Regions from separate parts of the Homo sapiens genome. Here regions 1 and 2 are each linked to region 3. The links come from fine-mapping of genetic effects on gene expression. A gene starts in region 3. Each other region holds a variant in brackets. All regions are shown on one strand. Distances are between the middles of the regions.

The links. PIP is the estimated chance that this variant, and not a neighbour inherited with it, causes the effect.
Region 1: its variant is fine-mapped to the expression of NUS1 in whole blood (INTERVAL, PIP above 0.99).
Region 2: its variant is fine-mapped to the expression of NUS1 in whole blood (INTERVAL, PIP 0.90).

The regions. Positions count from the first base shown.
Region 1 is chr6:117,728,072-117,730,833 of GRCh38, reverse strand. No RefSeq gene overlaps it. Among named protein-coding and RNA genes, the nearest start is that of NUS1, 54 kb to the right of the region's middle. The variant A/T (reference allele first, on the strand shown) is at 1,133.
Region 2 is chr6:117,700,694-117,703,455 of GRCh38, reverse strand. The region is part of intron 3 of NUS1 (NUS1 dehydrodolichyl diphosphate synthase subunit); the gene reads right to left. Among named protein-coding and RNA genes, the nearest start is that of NUS1, 27 kb to the right of the region's middle. The variant T/AT (reference allele first, on the strand shown) is at 1,594.
Region 3 is chr6:117,673,827-117,676,588 of GRCh38, reverse strand. It overlaps NUS1 (NUS1 dehydrodolichyl diphosphate synthase subunit), which reads right to left and starts at 1,120. Exons shown (of 5, transcript NM_138459.5): 1 at 504-1,120. The coding sequence starts at 918. LOC101927919 (a long non-coding RNA gene) reads left to right here and starts at 1,305. Exons shown (of 3, transcript NR_110854.1): 1 at 1,305-1,492; 2 at 1,754-1,942; 3 at 2,507-2,762.

The sequences.
Region 1 (2,762 bases), 54 kb before region 3:
TAGGTGTGAGAAGGAGCCACCCGGAAAGGGGCATGAAAACACCTTCTGAGGTGATAGAAATGATTTATGTCTTGTTTTGAATAATGTTTACACAAGTATATGAAATTGTCAAAACTCAGAGAAAAAAACACAAGATTCATGGATTATATTTAGGTTAGTTATACCTTAAATTATATTACATGTTATATCTCAAGAATGTTGATTTTAAAAGAATCAACCCGGCCGGGCGTGGTGGCTCATGCCTCTAATCCCAGCACTTCGGGAGGCCAAGGCGGACAGATCACCTGAAGTCGGGAGTTCGAGACCAGCCTGACCAACATAAAGAAACCCCGTCTCTACTAAAAATACAAAATTAGCCAGGCATGGTGGCACATCCCTGTAATCTCAGCTACGCGGGAGGCTGAGGCAGGAGAATCGCTTGAACCCGGGAGGCAGAGGTTGCAGTGAGCTAAGATCGCACCATTGCAATCCAGCCTGGGCAACAAGAGCAAAACTCCGTCTCAAAAATAAAATAAAATAAAAAAAGAATCAACCCATAGGCTCTCCCAATTCTTTTATTCAGAAATGTATTATCACTTCGTTCTGGTCTTACCTTTATTTTGAAGATAAGGCATAACTCACTGCTCTCAAAATTCTGTGTTAAACCCTGACCAAAATTATTACAAATCTGACCTAACCCAGAGAAGCAGTAATAACCATGATATGCAAGATAATTGTTTTTACATCTGTGTATGGGTGACTGAAATAAGGATCTAGCCTAATGCAAGGAGAATGGAGAAAATGCTTTTATCAAATGTCCATCATGTACATGCACACAATGTTTGAACACAAACATGGTTGTGATGCTGCAATTACACAATGTGGTACCCTGGTTCTTTGGTGACTCTCAAAGTTGTCCTTTTATAGTCTCCTCCCCTTGAATTTCACCTGGCCCAGTGACCTCTTTTGACCAACAGAATAAGGCAGAAGCCCTGGCAGCTTCTGCTTTTGTACTCTTGAAAGTCCTGAGCTGCTACATAAGAAGTCTGGTTACCCCATTGTTGACACCACATATAGAAGCCCTATGGAGACACCACGTGGAGAGGGAGAGGTCATTAGATTGCATGAAGAATTGAGGAACCCAGTCAAGAGT[A/T]AGACCAAAGACCCTAAATATATGACCTCAGCAGAATCACTCAAGCCAGCTCCTACCATTAGAGACTAGTTAGTGCAGGTACCAGACATGGAAGTGAGGAAACCATTTTGGACATTCTAATAGACATGATACGGGGCAGACATTAGTCATCTCTGCTCTTCCCTCTTTGAATTCCTGACTCACAGAATAGTGAGAAATAATAAAAACAGTTGTTGTTTTAAGCCAGTAAACTTTGGGGTACTCCATTATGCAGCACTAGATAGCTGAAAGACACCTAATGGGATAAGCTGCCAAGGGAAAGCTGGGGCCAGGAGAAGGGGGTAAGAGGCAATATGAGAATGAACAGAAAATCAAAGAACAAAGGAGATCAAGGCAGATACATATAATACTGAAGAAACAGGAGAATCCCAGAAACACAGAATTGTGCTTCAGACAATCCTTTCTACCTGTATGATGCCTTTAGCCTGCCGCAGCAAAGAGGTAAAATATCACTAGGTCAAAGGATGGTACTAGGGCAGAAATGCCTAAAAAGCTATTTCTGCCAGCTTGATTATGAAACCTAACCCATACTGACTTCTTTAAAAGTCATTTTTGGTGTACACTTCTGTATTGAGATTCTCCTTATGGTTTCCAGCTAAGCTATAAAATTGACATTGCCTTAAATAATCCCAAATGATTCTCTAGATGAGGAAGGTGTTCCTTAAAAAAATTATACATTAAAATAGTGCACTCTTATTATTTTTATATATCTGTAACATATTAAGCTACAGATTCATTTGCAAAATTTTGCAGATAGCTTCACTCTACATCTGCTAGGCCAGCTGCACCATCTGTATGTGGTGCTATTTTGAGATCCATACTTAAGCAGCAGATAAAGGATACATGAAGCTTGCAGTGGCTGAGCTGTCTGGACCTGGCTGCACTTTAGAAGGCAGAGTCTTACAGGACTGACTTACTAATAATGATGAAGTTAAAAGCACTACAGAGTAACAAAGTATCGGCTGCCTTTTATTTTTGATTTTGCAAATGCCCCCATTTCCTTATCTGCAAAATGGGAATTTTAATGGTACCTTCCTCATAAGATTGTTATGAGGATTAAATAAATGTCTAAATGCTTAATGTCTGGCATGAAGTAAAGCTTCAATAATAAGTTTATCTATTATATAATTTCCTATATATGTCATATTATTCATGCAACAAAAAATATTATATCATTTTATCTTAAATTTCAAGCAGAATTTGTTACCTTTGGTGTTATAATGATGCAAAGACACTAGCTAGCTTGTGACAAAGCTGCTTACATGTTTCAATTACTTTTTACAATCTGGTATAGCTTGAAAAGATAATCAACACCTATAAGTTTAAGGCTATACAGGATGTTTCACTTTTACCATCTCTGAGTCAGAAATTCTGTTGGATTAATAAACCTTGAACTGCTAAAAAACCATCATGAACTAAGATGGATACCAAGAACCATTATAGCTTTTATAAGCCTTTCAACTGAAAGTAACAGAAACCAACACTGGTTCTTTCAAGTAACAAGGGAATTTATCGGAAGGATGTTGAGAGCTCACATTATTGATGGGATGCTGGCAAACCAAACTTGGAATATGTGCCAACAAAGGCAGCG
Region 2 (2,762 bases), 27 kb before region 3:
CATGCCCCACCCCCAACTCTGTAATACATACTTTAATATCTATGCTCATTCCAAATGTGGAAGTTTTCTCAAAAGTCTGTTTAACTTGATTGATTACCTGATAAGAAAGGGTAACCCACCTCCCACACTATACCCAATAGGTGCCCCCAAAATCACATGTATCTTTTAAGACTCAATGTAGGTGTTCTCTTGGAATCCTGGGAAAGTTACTACAGTTCTAAAGGTGTGACTGCTTGATTCTGGCCACAGAATTGAATAACTTCAGAGACGAAAAGGAAATTTTAAAATATCTATTCTCCTTCCTTCCCTCATGCACCTCATTTTACAGCTATGAACCCAAAAAGACCAACTCCTAGCCATACATCACAAATGTCTTCCTTGGTCCCCAGAGCCAGAGCAGCCTCAGAGAGGAAAAGGAGACCAAGCATCTGCCTCAACAAGGACAAGGTCAATTTTTATCTCTTTCATGAACTGGTTTCCATATGAGACCTGACTTGGGGAAAAAAAGGACAAGGGTATTTCAATAGCTTAAAAATAAAATTTGAAGAGTACAGAAAAAAGATACTATAATCCAAGAGACTAAGGTTCCAATAGTTGTTAACATCCTCAATTCTGCCACTAACTTGTCTGTTATACAACCTCTCCAGTGCTAAATTCCTTCATTTGTCAAATAAGGAAACTGGATCAGGCAGTCCTGTCCAGCAGTACTATTGAAAAAATTATTTCCATAACAAAGTCCTTCTAAAAGTCCATACTGGTAGAGTGAATGGGCCAAGCAGAGGAACACACATTCCTGTATTACCTAAGAAGCAATAAATTATCTTCCATAAAAAATGACAAGAAGGAACTCCAAACCAATAGTGATGTAAAGAGGGTGGCAAATCTTCTCTATAAAAAACATGTTAAATTGGACAAAACCAACCATTCAAGAACACTAGATACTGACCAAAGGCGGACAATTATTCTTAAAGAAAACAACAAAAAAAAAGCTAGAGCTTTCAGTAAGAATGGCAAAGGTCTATGGCCTTCTTGCCTGGGACTGCTCCCAATGCCCACCCCAATCAACTGGAGAGAACTTACATTTTACCAGTATAGCTCTGACAGCAAAAATTAGATGATTTGCTACTTGCTGCCAAAAGATACGGACTCAATCTGGAACTGGAGGGTGTAGGCAAGAAGGAAAAGGAACAATGAAAATCCATGGTTTGACAGTTAAAGGTGGGAAATTCAAAAGAGAACAAATAGGAAAACCCACAGCTTTACTTGCCTGAGGTTGTAGCCCCAGTTAATACAATGGCAAGAAATTTAACAGTGAGATCCAGGAAATAAGGGCTCAGATAAACTCTCACATATCCATGGCCGACTGGGAAATAACATACATACTAGGAGGGGAAGCAGGGTAGGGGACAGGGCAGGAAGAAAGTCCAGTGAAAATCAAAAGCCAAGGAAACTTGAGAACTGGTGGCAACTTTAAATTCAGTTTCCAATACCAGAAATCATGGAAGCCTTACAAATTTAAGGTATCTAAGCATAACCAATGTGGAAATCATTGGCTTACCACTAAGCTATGTAGACATAAGCCAGACTAAAAAA[T/AT]TAAATAAAAAAAAACCTGAGCAGAGACAGCAGGAGTAATCTTTATTTATAGACAACATGATCGTGTATTTAGAAAATCCTAAGTCTCTACAAAAAGAGCTACTAGATTAGGTGAACTTGTATCTTAGGAAGGTTGCAGGATATAAAATCAATATTAAGAAACAAGTGTATTTCTAAGTATTAACAAACAACCTGAAAATTAAGAACATAATTCCATTAACAACAGCATCAAAAAGAATACCTAGGAGTAAATTTAACAAAAGAAGTAGAAATTCTATACCCCGAAACTGCAAAATATTATTTAAGAAAATTAGAACCCGGCCGGGCGTGGTGGCTCACGCCTGTAATCCCAGCACTTTGGGAGGCCGAGGCAGGTGGATCACGAGGTCAGGAGATCGGGACCATCCTGGCTAACACAGTGAAACCTCATCTCTACTAAAAATGCAAAAAATTAGCCAGGCGCGGTGGCGGGCGCCTGTAGTCCCAGCTACTCGGGAGGCTGAGGCAGGAGAATGGCGTAAACCCGGGAGGCAGAGTCTGCAGTGAGCTGAGATCACACCACTGCACTCCAGCCTGGGCGACAGAGCGAGACTCCATCTCAAAAAAAAAAAAAAAAAGAAAATTAGAACCCAAATAAATGGAGAAATATACTATGATCATGAACTGGAAGACTCAATATTGTTAAGAAGGCAACTTTCCCCAAATTGAGCTATAGATTCAATTCAATCCATATCAAAACCCCAGCAGAGTTTTTTTAAATTAGAAAGCCAATCCCAAAATTTGTAGAAAAATGCAAAGGACCCTGAATAGACACAACAACTTTGAAAAAAAAAAAAATCTTATTCAATTTTTTTTTTTGTACACAGTAGCCAGCCTCACTTCCCTGCTGGCTCACTCCCCCATTATCTTTCCCAGCCTCTAGCAACCATCCTCTACTCTCTATCTCCATGAGTTCAATTGTTTTAATTTTTAGCTCCCACAGGTGAGAACATGTGATGTTTGTCTTTCTGTGACAGGCTTATTTCATTTAACATAATGGCCTCCAGTTTCATCCGTGTTGCTGCAAATGACAGGATCTTGTTCTTTTTATGGCTGAATACTACTCTGTGGTCCATATGTACATTTTCTTTATCGATTCATCTGCTGATGGACACTTCAGTTGCTTCCAA
Region 3 (2,762 bases):
TTACTTATTTGAGACAGAGTTTCGCTCTTGTTGCCCAGGCTGGAGTGCAGTGGCGCGATCTCGGCTCACCACAACCTCCGCCTCCCGGGTTCCAGCGATTCTCCTGCCTCAGCCTCCCTAGTAGCTGGGATTACAGGCATATGCCACCACGCCCGACTAAACTTGTATTTTTAGTAGAAACGGGGTTTCTCCATGTTAGTCAGGCTGGTCTCGAACTCCCGACCTCAGGTGATCCGTCCGCCTCGGCCTCCCAAAGTGCTGGGATTACAGGCATGAGCCACCGCGCCCGGCCAAGGGATATTTTTAAAATGTTAAAAAGCTACTGAGTCAAATCCAGAGAATTAGTAGGTGTTCAATAAAGCTGATCTCCCTTCCTCGAAAGCGCTAGCGCTGTGATTTGCAGAGAGGCCGCGGCAACTCGTGCCATGGGCACCACCCGCCAGACCAGCGGTCTAGCGGTCCAAGACGCCTCGGCCACCCCCCACCACCGCACCGGGCCTCACCTTGGTGGTCGTAGACGCTAATGTAGGAGATGCCCACGGCCATACACCACACCACGAGGCTCGCGATGTCCGAGAAGCTGGGTTCCTGCTCCACCTCGGTGATCACCAGGCCCATATGCACAGGCAGCTTCTCCAAGGAACGACCGTCCGCGCGCCAGCGCATCCGGTGGTGTGCGGCTGCCAGGCACGACCCCCCGCGCGGGTGCCGGTGGTGACGGCGGTTCCTGCCGACTGCCGGGGGCTTGCGGAGCGTGAAGCCGAGCGGCGCTAGGACCGCGGCAGAGGCGGCGCGGCAGCAGCGCCGCCAGATCCAGTTCCAGGTGCCGAACCGAACGCGGAGCCAGGAGGTGAGCGTGCGGTGCAGACAGAGCAGCGCGTGCAGCACCCGCCACACCAGCTCGTACAGCCCCGTCATACTCTTGTGGCCCTCAGACACCCCCTCTCCCTCCCGCCCACTCCCGCAGCGCGACGGCTTTTTATCCGCCCCTGCGGCCGGCGCGGGCCATCGCTCCGCGTCCCCCCGCCCCCCGAGCCCGAACCCCTTTCCACTGCCAACACCTCACCTCGCCCCCGCCGCCATCTTCCTCCTCCCTTGGCAGCCCCGCCCCCAGTAGTACATGGACAGTTCCGATTGGCCAGCGTGGAATTCTGACGCGGCTTCTGGGTCCGAGAACGTGGCCCGTTCCGGCGCAGTGAGGGAAGGCGCACGCCTGCGAACTAGCCGGGCCGATACCGCGGGCGCCCCCTGGTCGCGTGGAGGGCGATGAGCGAACGACCCGGGACTTGTCTGAATGGGACCCCAGCAAGGCACACGTGGTCTTCAATGCGATGGGCGCTTCCAGGGGACCCGGCGTCCCTTGGGTCCAGGAAGTCTTATACTGTCTCCTCTCACGGCCCCGACAGAAACGGTTTCTGAGGAGTAGAAGTGTCCTAAGTGGATTGGAAATTACAAATGCCGGAAAGAACCTAGGGATGGAAAGCAGCCCTCAGTAAGTGTTGATGCTGGGAATCCACCAGGGTTTCCAAAAGTGTCCTCAAAGGCTGGAGTGATCCTGCTACTGTCCTTTATTCAGCCTCCCGGCTGAGGCTGGGAGCGAGGCTCTTTAGCCATGTTCCTGAAACACCCCTCTACCCATGTCATTCTCATCTAAGGTATCCTTTCCTGGCTGTACATTGCTTAATAGAGGCTCTACAGCTTGGCAGTCCAGTCACTTAATTCTTTTTTTTTTTTTTTTTTTTTATTCGGCAAGACTTTGACCAACCGCCGTGGGTTAGGTTTACAGTGGGGAAAAAAAATAGAAATTGTGCCTGACTTCAATGACCGCCACTATTTGAAGCAAACTGCCCATCCAAGCCTTATCATCCCCTTTAACACCCTAATGTTTCTGTCCATGTGGACTTCGACGTGGTCCTCTAGAATGGTTTTGTACTTCCCCGCGGTAAGTCTGTACTGTCTTTGCCCTTTTTGTTCAAGCTCTTCTCCTGAATTCCTGATTCCCGACTTGGTATTGCCGACATTCCAACCCATTTCTCAAGGTTTATCCTACATGCTACATCCTCTATCATCATATATATGTGTGTGTGCAACAATAATATTTATATTATTTGCATTTATATTTATATAAGTATATATATAAAGATTAGGGAGGTATTACAAAAATGCAACTGTACACATACACACGTATACACACATATTTACACACGTGTGTGTGTGTAAACAGTTGCGTTTTTGTAATACCTACCTATTCTTTGTTCGCTAAAGCCTCTTTTTCCCCCTGGGAAACATCTGTTCACGTCTTGGCTATGTGACTTAATTTTTCTAACATTGTCACTTTTTCAACTAGTCTCATTTTGGTTTCTAAGACTCATTTAACTTTACTTTAAAAGTTGAATCTCATGTCCATCTCCCTTTCGCAGTGCAATTTTCCTCCCTTTGGCAGTGCAGCCTGAAGAACTGAGGGCTGGGCACCAGGCACACCCTTCACACACTTCTTTCTCTCCAGGTCTCCTCTGCGGTAGCTCCTCTGATGATGGACAAAGAAGGAGAGGCGAAAGGCCATGATCAGGGAAGCCTACAGTCTTCTTCCTCACTGCCCATTGCTGTAGTTTATGCAGCTACATGATGCTTGTTAAGGAAGCTCCCTAGACACCAGTGTCCCATTGAGATTTGGCCACGTATTCTGCAGACCCCACCCCACCCCCCATGCCGACTATGTTGCCACATTTCTCTACCGTACTCATTTCTTTGCCCCAATGTCT